Regions from separate parts of the Homo sapiens genome. Here region 1 is linked to region 2. The links come from fine-mapping of genetic effects on gene expression. A gene starts in region 2. The other region holds a variant in brackets. All regions are shown on one strand. Distances are from middle to middle.

Region 1 (5,374 bases), 85 kb after region 2:
CACATGCTGGTCCCAGGGCAAGAGAGATGGAAACTTTCAAAGGTATTACCCAATACATACAAAAGAGATATAAAAACATGTCAGCAGAAGGTTGAGATTAGACACCACAGTGGAAAGCCCCTTTGCTATTTCCAGATTTGAAATGGGTCTTATTTATTTATATTTATAAATGAGACTGGGTCTTACTATGTTGCCCAGGCTGGACTTGAACTCCTGAGCTCATGCATTCCTCCTGCCTCAGCCTCCCAGGTAGGTAGGATAATAGGCATGTGCCACCATGCCCGGCGTAACTCTTAAACCAAAAACTCACTGGCTGAAGGAAGGTCTAGGTCACCATAAAGAAGGGCTCTGCAGCACCATGACAATTGCATAGGGTAGCTATTTCCCTAATCTTTTCCCCGAAGGATTTACTTGGGTAACCATAACTAAGGAAAGTGGTATGCCCATGTTTTCAAGGACTGTTGGATACAGGGCAGAGTCAGGCTGAGACTTGCTGTCCTGGACATGTGTCAGAGTAGGGCACATGGAGATAGTGGAGTCCTGGCCATTGGAAATATTGGAAATAAGAGGTCTGGAGGGGAGACATGTGGCTGGATGTATGGGAAGCAGCAAAAAGTGTGAGAATCTTTGGTTTTGTTTGTTTGTTTTTTGAGACGGAGTCTCGCTCTATCGCCCAGGTTGGAGAGCAGTAGTGCAATCTCAGCTTACTGCAACCTCTGCCTCCTGGGTTCAGCAATTTTCCTGCCTCATCCTCCAGAGTAGCTGGGATTACAGGTGTGAGCCACCATACCCGGCTAATTTTTTTGTATTTTTAGTAGAGATGGGGTTTCACCATGTTAGCCAGGCTGGTCTCAAACTCCTGATCTCAGGAGATCCACCTGCCTCAGCCTCCCAAGGTGTTGGGATTACAGGCGTGAGCCACTGCGTCCAGCTGAGAACCTTTGTATCACTCGCTAATACCCACCAAAGAGCACACACCACAGAAGAGAACAACCAAGTTGACAGGATGACTGGGCCAGTAGATGCCAGCTATTCCTGTCCTCATCCCCCCTAATGCTTGCACCATGGGATCACAGAGATGGCAGAGAGTTGCAGGCTACATGTTGGGTTCCCTCTTGCTAAGTCTGGTCCATCTCACAATGGGTGCACTGAGTGCCTGGGCTCACCCAGTGGAAATTTCCTGGATTCCCAAATGTGTGATAGAAATGAACATACCTAACACATAGAACCCTTATACTTTTTTCTTGATTTTTACAGTAAGGGCGATTATAGTAGGAAAAGCCAAATAGAAGCCCTTGAAATCATGAGATGAATGGTGACCCATGCCACCCTCAAAGACTTAGAGGATGTCAGAATAGCAGTCCTCATCATAGTCACCCACATTACCTGTCTAGCTTCTATATAACATAAATGGATTATGACAGATGACAGTGACCTACTGCAAACGTACCCAAGTGTAAACCCAAACTGCAGTTGCTAGGCCAGGGGTAGTATCTTCATTAGAGCAGATTAACATAGACGCTGGTCTGTAGGATGCAGCTATTGATCTGGCAAATGCTTCAGCCTTGGTAAGAGAGAGCCCATTCTTTTTTTTTTTTTTTTTAAAGACACATTTATTTAGGGTCATGATCAGACTATTACATTTAGCAATCAACAGCATGGGTGCAAAAACCAAAATCTACATTAAAGCCCTTTGTTGGACTGCTTTATGCTTTCCAACGAACAGAAATTGAAAATAATCTGTTATGCAATTAGTCATCAATACAGTCTTGGAGTTTTTTGCCCATACATATATTTGTCAAAACCATGTCTTCTTTGTAGCAGCTGGACCCTGCCACCATGGTGCTTGGCTGAGTTCACAATGTGTTGTAACCTGTAGCTTCCCTGTCCCTTCTCTGGCTCGCCTCTCCTGCTAGGCTTTCTTTCCTGGCAATAATTAAAATCTTTTGCCACTGCCATAGGTACTGCTGCTACTGGAACTGCCACAGCCACCTTGGTTTCATGGTTCGGCAAAGTATTGGCCTCCAACATCACAGGGGCCAGAGCTTCTGCCTCCAAAGTTTCCACCCTTCATGGGTCCAAAATTTGAAGACTGATTCTTGTAATTGCCAAAATCATTGTAGCTTTCACCACCTCCAAAATTGCTTCCCTCATTACCAAATCCATTATAGCCATCCCCACTGCCCCCATATTCACCATCACCACGGCTGCCACCAAAGCCACCATGACGACTGAAGTTTCCTCCACAACCCACCAAAACCACCCCCTCCACCACCACCGAAGTTTCCAGAACCACTTTGACCTCTTTGGCTGGGTGAAGCACTAGCCATCTCTTGCTTTGGCAGAGCTTCCCTACCTAACTTCAAAGTTGTGACCATTCATAGGGTGGTATTTCTTTTTTTTCTTGAGACAGAGTCTTACTCTGTTGCCCCAGTTAGAGTGCAGTGGCATGATCTCAGCCCGCTACAACCTCCACCTCCCAGGTTCAAGCAATTCTTGGGCCTCAGTGTCCTGAGTAGCTGGGATTACAGGTGTGTGCCACAATGCCCAGCTAATTTTTTGTATTTTTAGTAGAGATGGGGTTTTGCCATATTGGCCAGGCTGGTCTTGAACTCCTGGGCTCAAGTGATCCACCTGCCTCGGCCTCCCAAAG[T/C]GCTGGGATTTTAGGCATGAGCCACTGCACCCAGCCAGGATGGCATTTCTGGATGACAATCTTATCCACAGAGTCATGGTCATCAAAGGTTACAAAGACAAAGCCCCTTTTCTTGCTGCTGCCTCGTTTCAGTCATGATTTCAATCACTTCAATTTTTCCACACTGTTCAAAATAATCTCTTAGGTGATATTCTTCAGTGTCTTCTTTAATGCCACCAACAAATATCTTTTTCACAGCTAAGTGGGCACCTGGTCTTTGAGAATCTTCTGTTGAGACAGTTCTCTTTGGCTCCACAACTCTTCCATACACCTTGTGTGGCCTTGCATACATGGCGGCATCCACCTCCTCCACAGTGGCATATGTGATAAACCCAAAGCCCCTGGAATGCTTGGTGTTTGCATCTCACAGTTCGTTGAGCATTCCCCATGCTTAAAATGGCTCCTCAGGCTTTTGTCAGTTGTTTCAAAGCCCAACCCTCCAATGAAGAGCTTCTGCAGCTGTCTGGTCTCTTTAGGAGACTCTGACTTAGACATGATGGCAGTGGGAAGAGAGACTTTACCAATGCTTCTTCAGTGGAATCTACAAGCAGAAAGGCAAGGGAGCCCATTCTGTCAAACCAACATGTTGCCTGCAACTCTCTACCATCTCTAAAGTTGATTTAGCAAGCAGTAGGTGGTTAGGGACTAACCCTGCCAGTAGCTGGCATCTACAGGACAAAGTTGGAGATCTCACACTTCTTGACTTCAAACTTACTACAAAGCTACCATAATCAAAACAGTGTGGTATTGACATAAAGACAGACATATAGATCAATGGGACAAAATAGAGAACTCAGAACTAAACCCTTGCATATATGGTTCAAATAATTTTAGACAAGGATGGCGATATCAGTCAATGAAGGAAAGGACTTTTTTTTCAACAAATGGTGTTGGGACAACTGAATATCCACATGCAAAAGAACAAAATTGGACCCTTTGGTTTTGGGAATAACTCTCAAATCCATATTTTTCCTCTGCTCTCACATCACAACAATCAACACAGAAGACTTCTGTGACCAAATATGTGGATTTTTTCTCCCCCATCAACAATCAGTGGACACCAGCTGGTGTCCTCCAATTCAATTCCACCACTATCTACCTGGAGATTGCATCAGATCCCACAAGTTGAGGGCTCAGTCCCACAAGACTGACCCCTCCTTTCCCTCAGTTACAAGTCTGGGCCTCAGGAACTTTTGACCAAACTGGCTTCAAGTTGGGGTTCCTATAACCCCTTCTTTGGGTTCAATTAACTTGTTAGAGTAGCTCACAGAACTCAGGGAAACACTTACTTATGTTTACCAGTTTATTACGAACTTCCATGTGTTCAGCTATCTGGAAACTCCCTGAACCCAGTTCTCTTGGATTTTTATGGAAGCTTCATGACATCAGCATTCCTTTCCCCAGGATATAGGGTAGGACTTTCTCTGGGGCGGGCCTTAAGACCCACAATAAGAAAGGTGGGGGAAAATTAGAGTCCTGCCTTCGGGCAGATGAAAGGAAGGCAAGAGTAGGACAGAGAGATTCTGTTTCCTGAGGCCTGCCCCAGGGGCTCATTTTAACACACCCGACATTAAAAGGAAAGACTCTAACAAGGGCTATGGGGTTTCTGAGCCAGGAACCATGGACAAAAACATATGCATGTGTATATAACACTACACCTTTCCTTATACCACATATAAATAATAACTAAAAATGGATCAAAAGCCGGGCTCAGTGGCTCATGCCTGTAATCCCAGCACTTTGGGAGGCCGAGGTGGGTGGATCACCTGAGGTCAAGAGTCCAAGACCAGCCTGACCAACATGGTGAGACCCTGTCGCTACTAAAATTACAAAAAATTAGCCAGGCGTGATGGTGTGCACCTGTAATCCCAGCTACTTGGGAGGCTGAAATAAGAGACATGCTCAAACCCAGGAGGTGAAGGTTTGCAGTGAGCCGAGATTGTGCCACTGCACTCCAGCCTGGGCAACAAGAGGGAAACTCCATCTCAAAAAATAAAAATAAAAAAAGATCAAAGACCTAAATGTGGAGCTAAAACTGTAAAACTCTCAGAAAATAGGGGAAAAACTTCCCATTTAAGATAGGGGAAAACAACTGGGTTAAAAAGTGGGCAAAGGACTTAAACAGACGTTTCTCCAAAGAAGATATACAAATGGCCTCTAAGCACATGAAAAGATGCTCAAAGATGCCCAACGTCACTAATCCTTAGGGAAATGCAAATTAAAATGGCAATGAAGTACCATGTCCCACCCGTTAGGATGGCCATTATCAAAAAACAACAAGAAAGCAATGAGCGTGGGTGAAGATGGGGAGAAACTGGAACCTTCTGCACTGTGGGTGGGAATGTAAAGCAGTGCAGCTACTGTAGAGAACAGTATGGCAGTTTCTCCAAAAATTAAAAAGAGTTACTATATGATCCAGCCATTTCATTTTGGGGTATATAACCCAAAGAATTGAAAGCAGGGACTTGAACAGATAGATATACACTCATATTCATAGCAACATTATTTATAATAGCTGAAAGGTGTAAGCAACCCAAGTGTCCATCTACAGATTTTTTTGTTTTGTTTTGTTTTTTTGAGACAGAATCTTGCTCTGTCGCCCAGGCTGGAGTTCAGTGGTGCAATCTTGGCTCACTGCAGCCTCTGCTTCCCAGGTTCAAGAGACTCTCCTGCCTCAGCCTC
Region 2 (5,374 bases):
GCCTGTAGTTCCAGCTATCTGGGAGGCTGAGGTGGGAGGATCACTTGAGCCAGGGAGGTGGAGGTTGCAGTGAGCTGAGATCGCCCCACTGCAGTCCAGCCAGGGCGACAGATCCAGAACCTGTCTCAAATACATCATACATACATACATACATACATACATACATACATACATACATACAGGGAGTCCACAGACTTTTTCTTTCTTTTCAGTTGCTCTCTCCCTTTTGGCCTCCTTGTTAAAAACTCTACATACGTTTTCAAGTAAAACCTTCTAATTTACCCCAACAGATGAACCTGCTCTGGATTAAGCCAGAAGCAAGAGAGAACCCTGCTAGACCAGCCATTTCACCAGCTCCCTAAAATGCAGCTATATTTGGGAGACTTCTGTGTAGGAAGTAAGGCTAATAATGCAGTTCCCAGAAGATTAGGTGTGGTTTTAATGAGCTCACACAAGGCGGGTGGGGAGGGGAGTGGTTCCATGGTTCTATTTTTAAAACTCGTGTAAAGATCATCCTTTGTTGTCTAAACACGGCAGTAGAGAAAGAGACGTCTCTGTTTCTCACGTTACAATCAGAGGTAACAACCTGTGCTAACCTGGTTTCCAGCGAAAAGGCCAAAAGTGTACTGATAACTTCGGCTTCAGCTGAGACTGGGATAACCCGCTTGAGCCAGTGCCAAATTCCACCCATCCGGCGCGCAAGCGAGCGGGGCTTCTCCTCCCCAACCCCGGCCCAGGCTGCTTCTGCCGGGTCAGTGCTGCCGGGTTGGTGGAAGCTGCCTTCCCTCCCTCCAAGATCAGAAAGGCGGAGGGTTCAGGAAGGGGTTCTCCTCTAGGTGCAAGGGACTGCCTGGATATTTGGAGGGAATGGCAAAGCCCTGCTTCATGAGGTGAATGAATATAAATTAAATCGCTCTCGTATTTAAAATAACTTGACGGATGACAGTGCCCATTCAGTCAATCGGCCCTCGACGTTGGATTTGCTACCTGGGCTTGTTGTCTGCGAGTTAAGGTCCTGCAAAAAGCCCCTGGCTTGTCACCTCAACTAACCTATCTCCTCCAGCAATTCTCTCAATACATCCTCGGGTTGTATTGTAATTCATTTTCCATAGCAGAAATGTGGAGGGCTCTAGAGAAGGTACAAGGCAAATTTTTTTTTTAAATTTTATTTTTGGTTGGCCGCGGTGGCTCACGCCTGTAATCCCAGCCCTTTGGGAGGCTGAGGCGGACGAATCACCTGATATCGGGAGTTTGAGACCAGCCTGACCAACATGGAGAAACCCCATCTCTACTAAAAATACAAAATTAGCCGGGCGTGGTGGCGCATGCCTGTAATCCCAGCTACTCGGGAGGCTGAGGCAGGAGAATCGCTTGAACCAGGGAGGCGGAGGTTGTGGTGAGCCCAGATCGCTCCATTGCACCCCAGCCTGGGCAACAAGAACGAAACTCAGTCTCAAAAATTTTTTTGTTTTATTTTATTTTTTAAATTTGAGACAAGGCCTCGCTCTGTCGCCCAGGCTGGAGTGCCATGGCGCAATCATAGCTCACGGCAGACTCGAACTGCTGGGCTCAAGGGATCCCCCTACCTCAGCTTCCGAGGAGCTAGGATGACACGCGTGAGCCACCATGCCTGGCTAATTTTTAGATTTTTTGTAGAGACGGGGTAGCTATGTTGCCCAGGCTGGTCTCCAACTCCTGACCTCAAGTGATCCTCCCGCCTCGGCCTCCAAAGCGCTGGGATTACAGGCGTGCGCAACCGCGCGGAGGCAATCTAGAAACTGCAGAGGGAGCACGGACCTGGGCACTGGGAAGAATAGGGCGTGGACTTGGAGTGTGACCGCGTTTGAATCTGGGTTGTGCCTGGGACACCCCACCTCCTGGGCCGTAGGTGGGGGGGGAGAGAGAGAGAGAGAGAGAGAGAGAGAGAGGATGTCGACCTTACATGGCTCCTAGCTCTCCGCGCTCTAGCCGAATGCCTGGTTCCTAGTGGGTGCTTGATACGTGGGAAATGTAGGGGGAGGGGGTGGCGGGGCATTGGGAATGTCCCGCAGAGTGGATTTCGGGAGAGTGGCGCTTTTCTCTAGAACTCTCTTCCGGTTACACCTGGAGTAAAAGCTTGACACTCTAGAAGGAAAACCCCAGATGAGCAGCTAGGACTGAGGGTTAGCGGTAGGCGGGAGCGGGGAGATAGTACAAGTACGCTTCCTAATGAGGCGGTGCCGCAAAATAACCAATTTTAATAAAGACTGCAGAGAAGAAAACCAGGTTCTGCTGGCGGAGTGCACAGGCTCCCAGCCGAGCGCCCAACAACCAGGTTCCGGGCCCACCCTGCCGCAGCCTCTTGGAAATCTCTAAGTTGGAATGTGTGCGTGCGCACCACGGGTCACTGCCCTCTTTGTGTGTGAATTTGAAGCGAAATCTGGGCGAGGCGGGGCCGTGCTACTAGCAATCGGACCCACAGTCGCGGTTCCAAGAAGCCCCGAAGCTTCCCCGGCTTCCCGCAGCACTGCTGGGAGGGCACACGGCGCCTCTGTCCCCACCCCAGAGCGTGGGGCGCGCGGAAAAAGGTCTGGTGACTGCCCTCCCCGCCGCCCCCCGGGAGCGTGCCCTCCCGCCGGACCCTGGGACTCCAGAGAAGCGCCGAGGGCGCGAGTACACTAAGATATACGACCTTCCCTGGGGACCGGGAAGGGCACAACCACCTCTTGCAACTCCGCCACTAAGACGCCTTGGGTCACCAGGCCCGGGGGAAAACTCGTCCCCGTCCCAGGCTCTCGATTCGGGCCGCAGCTCACGTCCCGCGCTCCTCCCTGCGCGCCGCTCTGCTCCTCCCTAGTCCCGCCTCCAGCTCCGCCCGGGCGCCCAGAGGGCAAATGAGGGGCGGCGGGGTGGCGGGTGGGGGGGAGACGCGGAATTTCCCAGCGCGGGGGCTCTGGCTTACCCTGCAACCGGGCAGTCTCTTTCTGTTTACGGAGAGAAAGGGGAAATGGAAAAGTCGGGGAGGCGGTGGCTGGCGTCCGCTGCGCCGCCCCTGGGCAGGCTCAGACGCCGTGAGTCAGGGGCAGAGCAGGGCGGTCTGAGCGTGCGGGCGACGCGGGTCTCACTCGTCCGCTCCGCTCTGGACTGCGCGCCACGCTCTGGGGTCCGGCGCCCTGGTTCCTGCTTCTGCCGCTGCCGCCGCCGGATCCCAGTGGCCCGGCGTGCTCGGCTCCCACAGGCCTGCAGCCAGCATCGCACCGAACCTTCGGGGGGCCGCGGCTGGAGCGCTCGGCCGGCGTGGGAGCGCCAAGGCCGCAGGTAATCCAGGGTTGGGGGTCTCCGGCGTGTCTTTCGGGTCGCGTCCCGCCTGGGTGCCCCGGGGATTCCCATGCAGAAATGGAGGGTGCCCCCAGCAGAGGGGAAAACTCTGGCGTGGGAAGAGGTGGGGGCGTGCCCACAGCTGCGCTCGCGGGTCGCCGGCTGCACCAGGCACAGCTGGAAAGCACCTTGCGCAAGGGTCTCACGGGGTGCAGACTCGCGACTCCTCCCCCTTCCTCCTCCTTCCCGTATCCGCAGCGCCAGGGCAGTGCTGGTCTGGGCAGTGCGCGGGGAAGCGGGGACCCGCTGTCACTGCGCCTCCCGCTGCCGACGCCGCCTGGACGGCCGCACTCTCCCTGCCCGAGACCCGGTGAGTGCAGCTCGGAGGCTGGAGGACCCGATCCTCCCAAATGCTGGGTGCTTTGATAATTTATAAGCCTTTTAGGCTCCCTTGACTTAGAGAACCAGGAGGAAAGGAGTGGGAGTGTGGGTTGGCGGAGCCCAGAGACTTGTGAATGGCTGGAACTAAATTCAAGTTTGTAACCCGGACTCTATCCCATGACTAAAGAGGTCATAGCAGAACACGAAGGCTGGGCTTTTGGTCTAAGAAAGAATACTAGGAGAAAAAAAAAGTTATTTTCACGGAAGTTGTTTTCGAGCGATAGTGCATGATCAGGACTCTGAAATTTTTCTAGCTCTGGGCGGAGAAGGACGCCTAGGGATTGTCTCCATAGTTAACAGGGGAAGGCCACCGGCTGCCTGTAAGAGAGAAACGTTGCGATGCTTGTCTATTTCACTTTTGGGAAGACAAGATTAAAGGCTGCTCTTGATAAAAAACAGGGACAGAAAGGCTCTTGCAGTTGCTTTACATACCTGTGGCCTGAGTCGTTTGTGCCAAGGAGAGTGTAATCCACTTCCAGCTGACGCCCCCAGCTCTCTGCGACGGATTGAGGTTTGTGTGCAGGACGTCTGGCATACGGCCCATGAGGACTTTGTCGTGTAAAGCAAATGGGAACGTTGAGGCATGTAGAGGTTTTGAAGCAGAGTGTCGGTCCTTCCTTCCATACGCCTGAAACGCATAATCCGGGGCTTTTTGAGAGCAAAAACATAGTCAGAAATGTGCCCTGAGGGAGAATGTACTATTTTGGCACACATATGTATATATGTATATATAATTTTTAAATTTTTTTTGAGAGGGGGTTTCACTCTTGTCGCCCAGGCTGGAGCGCAATGGCGCGATCTCGGCTCACTGCAACCTCCACCTCCCGGGTTCAAGCGATTCTCTTGCCTCAGCCTCCCGAGTAGCTGGGATTACAGGCGCCCGCCGCCACGCCCGGCTAATTTTTGTAGAGACAGGGTTTCACCATGTTGGCCAGGCTGGTCTTGAACTCCTGACCTCAGGTGATGCACCCTCCTTGGCCTCCCAAAGTGCTGAGATTACAGGCATGAGCCACTGTGCCCGGCCTAAAAAAATATTTTAAATGAGAAATAACACAAGTAATAGTCATTCTTTGTTAGGCAGAAGCATATGCTGTTATGCTGGCCATTTTCATTCACACTTGCCAGGAAACACTCACATTTTGTTTCTGTATATGGAGGCAGCCAAGAGTATTATGTTAATGTTTAGGAAGAGAATTTCCTCGTGATTTTATTGCTGATTTCTGAAATAATTCAGTGTAACTAATTTTGACTGTATTTGCACATCTCTCCAATTCCAAAAGCTGGCATAATTTTCTGTTTGGTTAGGAAGTAGGAATTTTATGAGGACTTTTATTGTAAACTGTGTCAAGGGAAAAATCATCTTATACTAAACGTCTTTATTGCCAAACTAGAATACCTTCACAATCTGAACTTTCTCTAGATGGGCACAGATCATGAATAACTCAGAAACCATTAGCATATTGTGTGCTTAATTAAGGCTGGAAAGTGCTGAGGCTTTTTGCAGGCGCAGTTAGCAGGCGAACTGGTCAGCAGGGTTTCTGGGGAACGTAGATTTGCGTGACAGGGGCCCTGTGTTGCTAAGGAATTACTGCAGGCACTGAGAAAAGTCTCAGCGTCAGACACTCCTCCACCTCCC

The links. PIP is the estimated chance that this variant, and not a neighbour inherited with it, causes the effect.
Region 1: its variant is the best candidate, but not a certain one, in a credible set for the expression of MAP3K8 in whole blood (TOPMed, PIP 0.51).

The regions. Positions count from the first base shown.
Region 1 is chr10:30,515,675-30,521,048 of GRCh38, forward strand. It overlaps the pseudogene HNRNPA1P32. Among named protein-coding and RNA genes, the nearest start is that of MAP3K8, 84 kb to the left of the region's middle. The variant T/C (reference allele first, on the strand shown) is at 2,654.
Region 2 is chr10:30,431,082-30,436,455 of GRCh38, forward strand. It overlaps MAP3K8 (mitogen-activated protein kinase kinase kinase 8), which reads left to right and starts at 3,103. Exons shown (of 9, transcript NM_005204.4): 1 at 3,103-3,297. RefSeq lists enhancers at 523-582, 1,090-1,971, 2,643-2,782, 3,503-3,602, 3,893-3,942 and 3 more and a silencer at 2,823-3,062.